Linked DNA regions of Homo sapiens: region 2 is linked to region 1. Evidence: fine-mapped expression QTL. Tissue or cell type: minor salivary gland. Region 1 holds a variant in brackets; the other region holds the start of a gene. All regions are shown on one strand. Distances are from middle to middle.

Region 1 (2,844 bases):
CAAGGTACTGATTCTCAAATGAGGGTGAATTTGCCCCCCAGCAGGCACTTGGCAGTGTCTGGAGATATTTTTGGTTGTCACAATGGGAGCGGGGGTGCCAATGGCATCCATCTAGTCAGTAGAGGGCAGGAAAGCTGGTAACATCCCACAGTGCCCAGAACAGCCGCATGCAACAGAGAATGATCCTGCCCCAAATGTCAGTAGTGCTGAGGTTAAGAAACCTATTTCTTGGTTTGGAAGTGGGGGCAGGGTCTCACTGCATTGCCCAGATTGGAGTGCAGTGGCACAATCATAACCCACTGCAGCCTTGACCTCCTGGGCTCAAGCAATTCTCCAACCTCAGCCTCCTGAGTAGCTGGAACCATGGGTGTGCACCACCACACCTGGCTAACTTTTTATTTTAATTTCTTGTAGAGATGGGATCTTGCTATGTTGCCCAGGCTGGTCTTGAACTCCTAGGCTCAAGCAATCCTGCTGCCTTGGTCTCCCAAAGTGCTGGGATTATAGGCATTAACCACAACCTGTGGCCAAAAAGCGGTTGTAATGTTGAAGCAGAGTAAATGTTCCCCAGCTCAATACATGGTATATCTGGTTATAAATAAGAGGCGCACACGAACATGTTTCCACAATGAGTGAACCAAAAAGATTTTATGTTGCAACAGTTTGTTATTTGTAGGCAATGAATGGCTTTGTATGTACTTCCCTTACCGCTAAGCAAATATGTCAGCAGGACAAAGTCCTACAAGTGGAATCGCCAAATAAGAAAGTTCATGCATTAAAAAAGAATTTTTTTTTGAGACAGGATCTTGCACTGTCACCCAGGCTAGAGTGCAGTGGTGTGATCACAGCTCACTGCAGCCTCAACCTCCCAGGCTCAAACAGTTCTCCCACCTCAGCCTCCAGGGTAGCTGGGACTACAGATGTGCACCACTATGCCTGGCTAATTTTTGTATTTTTTGTAGAGATGGGGTCTCATCATATTGCCCAGGCTGGTTTCAAACTCCTGGGGTGAAGTGATCCTCTCCCCTTGGCCTCCCAAAGTGCTGGGATTATAGGTGTGGGCCCCTGTGTCCAGTGCACTATCTGATTTTGCCAAATTACCCGTCACTGAATCCATACACATGTCTTTTCTTTCTTTTCCTTTTTTTTTTTTGAGTCGGAGTTTTGCTCTTGTCGCCCAGGCCGGATTCCGATGGCACAATCTTGGCTCATGGCAACCTCCACCTCCTGGGTTCAAGCAAATCTCCTGC[C/G]TCAGCCTCCCAAGTAGCTGGGATTACAGGTGCATGCCATCATGCCCAGCTAATTTTCTATTTTTGGTAGAGATGGGGTTTCACCATCTTGGCCAGACTTGTCATGAACTCCTGACCCTCAGGTGATCCACCCTCCTCGGCCTCCCAAAGTGCTGGGATTATGGGCATAAGCCACCGCGCCCAGCCTGAAGCCATACCCATTTCTATGCCCCTGGCAGTGAATGTAGAAGAGCCGTGGGGTGATTCTGTAATTTTAAAAATGTGCTCTCCCTGTTTATATCTTCTCATCAAAATCTGGGAATAAATAAAAGGTGGGCACGCTTTATGATAGTTTGTGCCCATCGTATTCTCAGCCTTCAGGGATCCATCCAGGATCTGCCCACGGGAGATCTTTTAAGTGTAATGAAGTTAACGCTACTGGGAAGTGGCTTCCCCTTTCTCGAGAAAAGGCATATTTGGCTCCTGCTTCCTGACACTAAGAGCCCCCAAATGACTTGCCTGTCAGAGTTTGCATGTAGAAAAATCTACCTCAGCAAATCTTCCTCTGAGTGGTTGTTCAGCTTTGTTTTTTCAATTTCTATTCTTTTTTTTTTTTTTTTTTTTTTTTTAATTTTAAGATAGTCTCACTCTGTCACCCAGGCTGCAGTGCAGTGGCACAATCTCAGCTCACTGCAGTCTCCGCCTCCCGGGTTCAAGCGATTGTCATGCCTCAGCCTCCTGAGAAGCTGGAACTACAGGCGTGTGCCACCATACTTGGCTAAGTTTTGTATTTCTTTTAGTAGAGATGGGGTTTCACCATGTTGGCCAGGCTGGTCTCGAACTCCTGACCTCAGGTGATAGGCCCGCTTTGGCCTCCCAGAGTGCTGAGATTACATGTGTGAGCCACTGCACCCAGCCTATTTTTTAAGTTTCTGATTCAAGGACCCCTTTGAGGGTCTGATGAAAGTGATAAGCCATCTCCCCAGAAGAACGCAGCTGTAATTTGCCTGGAATCTCCAAGGTTCCAGAAGCTTTCCTGGACCCCTGAAGAAGTGGCTGTGTGGATGGAGTGAGGCTCATGCCACCAGGCACTCTGCCTTGCCTCGCCTTTCTCTGTTTGAGGTGCACTGCATGAGGGGGGCCTGTGGTTGGACTTCCAGGCTCAGAAAACAATGTAGAAAGAGTTCCATGTGGCCAGGGACGCCCCAATTCCAAGTCTGTCTTCCCTACCTTCTAGCAGAGCAACTGGTCAGTTATTCAGAATCTGTTTTTGTTTTTGTTGTTTTTGACACAGAGTCTCGCTGTGTCACCCAGGCTGGAGTGCACTGGCATGATCTCAGCTCACTGCAACCTCCACCTCCTGGGTTCAAGCGATTCTCCTGTCTCAGCCTCCCATGTAACTGGGATTACAGGCATGCACTACCACAACTGGCTACTTTTTGTATTTTTTGTAGAGACAGGGTTTTGCCATGTTGGCCAGGCTGGTCTCGAACTCCCAACCTCAGGTGATCTGCCCACCTCGGCCTCCCAAAGTGCCGGGATTATAAGCTTGAGCCACTGTGCCCAGCCTGTTCAGCATCTCTGAACCTTAGTTTTCCGATCTGTAGAATGGGAC
Region 2 (2,669 bases), 520 kb before region 1:
AATCCCAGCTACTGGGGAGGCTGAGGCACGAGAATCGCTTGAACACGGGAGGCAAAGGCTGTAGTGAGCTGAGATTGTGCCACTTCTCTCCAGACTGCGCGACAGAACAATTTAAAAAAAAAGAGGAAGACTGGATCCTGGACTGTGGTCTCTGGAAGGGTATAAGAAGCATTTCCACATGGACTGTGGTGAATTGACCATTGGAGACTCAGTCTGCCTTGCCCTCCCTAGCTGCTTTCTTGGTACAGCAGGCTTGACTTGGGAAATCACTCTGCTCAGAATCCAAGTTCCTCAACTGAAAAGTAGGTAAAAAGCGATCTATTTGCAGAGCTGTGTGTGACTCAAAAGCCAGGGAACACCTTGCACACTGCGAGGTTTTCATTCTGAAAGCGATTCTTGCAATCTTGCCCGCAGCGCCATTTCATGCGGCTCTCTCTCCTCTGTGCCTCAGTTTCCCTGTGTGTAAAATGTGGGAGAGTCTACTGCCTTCCGTGGAGGCTGTGAAATTATGTCTTTAAACTAATTGGTCCAGACGTGGGGCCAAAGTATCGGGATTACAGGTGAGCCACTGCACCGGGCCTCAGCCTTGTCAGGGGGCCGGAGGTTGCTTAACCCCCTGGATCCCAGCTTCCTCATCTGTAAAACGGGCTGATGCCTATACAGCTCTCAGAACCACACCTGGTTCAGAAGTCCCCAAATGGTAGTCCTCAAATTCTGGCCAAGGCCAAAGCAGGTGCTTCACTTCTTCCGTGCACACCCTGCAAGTGGGCTCCGGGTGGCAGGTGCAGCTACGCCCTCTGCCGGTCGGGGCGGGAGACAAACTCAGGGGAGTGGGGAGAACCACAGCGACTCAGGGAGCTATTTCAGAGGGGGCAAGTGGAAGGCGCTGGGGCTCCAGGAGAGTCTGTAAGCGAACAGATGAGGAAATGACCAAAGAGTTAATATGTTAGTGCAGCGCTTGGAACGCAGAGGGAAGGACCATTTGCCCTGTGGTTGGTTGGTTCCTTCCCTCTGAATTTAGGTCCATTTGGTTTGTCCCGGAGTGCTTGTCAACCCGTCAGAGGGCCTGGGAACGGAGCATCCTGGGAAAGATAGTTCCCAGACGGGCTTCCCGCGCTGCTTCCCGGCGCCTTCGGCGGCGAGAGGACTCCATTTCCCGACGTGCCCCGGGACCGGGAGGCGGAGGGCCGCCGTGGCGTCGGTCCCCGGGCCGAGCCGGGGGTGGGGGCTCGAGGCGCCTCCGCGGCCGTGGACGAGCGTCCGTGCGGCCTGGTCCGGGCCATGTCCGCGTGAGGACCCCGCCGCTGTCGCCGCTCCCGTTCCGGCCCTGGCCCCTCTGCCCGGCAGCGCCGCGCACCATGGGCTCCATTCTCAGCCGCCGCATCGCGGGGGTGGAGGACATCGACATCCAGGCGAACTCGGCCTATCGCTACCCTCCGAAGTCCGGTGAGCGCCCGGCCCCAGGCGCGGACTGCTAGGCACGCGCTGGAACGCGGACCCGGCGGGCGCGGGGGCGGGGACTCGGGGCGGGGCGCCCTGCTCGGCCCCCTCCGGGCCTCGTTGCTACCCCGAGCCTTCGCGCGGCCCCACGGCCCCGATCCCTAGGCGTGGCTGGGGGCCCCGGAGGAACCTGCCCGAGCCGTACCTGGCGCTGCTACTGCCCGGCTTGGGTGACCTTGGGGCAGTCCCTTCGCCCCGGGCACCTCAGCTCCGTCCTTGCAACAGGGGGGAGCTCCTGGGGGAAACCCCGAGGGCGGGGCGGGGTGCTGAGCGCGGGTCCCGGCGCATCGCTTCTGCCTAGAAAACTCTCATTGTCATCAGATTGACCTCACCGCGGGGGCCGGCTTTCGCTTTCTTTAGTGGCTTGGTGTGAAGGCCGAGCCAGTGGTTTGGGCAATTTCCCTCCCATCAGGACGGAGGCTCTTGGTGTGTGGGTTGGAGGAGTGGGGCTGGGCCCAAGGAGACGATTATAGTTGATCGGGAGGGGCCAGGGTCCTTGCTGAGAGGACCCAGCCGATACTCGGGCCTCTGTGTTATGGCTGAGGGACGTAAGACACCAAGGAGGAAGTGACTGCCAAGATCTCAGCTGGATGGAAGCATAGTTGGGACCGGGACCAGCTGTGGGGCTCCCACGTAGCTTTGTTCCCAGCTCTCTTTCTGCCTCTATTGATGAGTTATGTGTTGACTGGGAGCATCTAGCTCCAAGTCTCACCCTCCATCTCCTCGTGGGGTTCTTTGTGGTGGAAAGGAGAGAAGGAAGAGGAGAGAGAACTTGGGCATCATGGGGACATCTAGATTGGGTCCTCAGATCCTGGCGTCTCATCTGATCTGATGTCTCAGTCTCCTGGGTGTCTCCGGACACCCACAGGCCAGATTTCTCTGAGTGTGGGCCAGGTCCACAAGTGGGGGAGGACTGCTAGACATGCCAGGGCCTGCCTGGGACCCCTTGGGGCCTGGGAACCTGCATTTTCAACCCATTCCCCATGTGAGTTTTACGTCCACTCAGGTTTGAAAAACTGCTCTGCCCAGGTTTTGTAAGGTGTGACTAGGTGAGGGCCTGGGGCCACTGGGATGAAGTGAGGGGAACCAGCACAGTTTGGGGGCACTCTGAAGGGGATGGACTCAGAGCTAGGCAGAACGCACTGTTGCCTGCCTGCTGGGGAGAGCAC

What was found. PIP is the estimated chance that this variant, and not a neighbour inherited with it, causes the effect.
Region 2: it holds the start of MGRN1, and the variant in region 1 is fine-mapped to the expression of MGRN1 in minor salivary gland (GTEx, PIP 0.96).

What each region holds. Positions count from the first base shown.
Region 1 is chr16:5,143,851-5,146,694 of GRCh38, forward strand. It overlaps the pseudogene ENPP7P14. Among named protein-coding and RNA genes, the nearest start is that of EEF2KMT, 47 kb to the left of the region's middle. The variant C/G (reference allele first, on the strand shown) is at 1,251.
Region 2 is chr16:4,623,603-4,626,271 of GRCh38, forward strand. It overlaps MGRN1 (mahogunin ring finger 1), which reads left to right and starts at 1,224. Exons shown (of 17, transcript NM_015246.4): 1 at 1,224-1,446. The coding sequence starts at 1,359. RefSeq lists enhancers at 886-995, 953-1,483, 1,006-1,300, 1,484-2,013, 2,544-2,669 and silencers at 1,066-1,245, 1,486-1,715.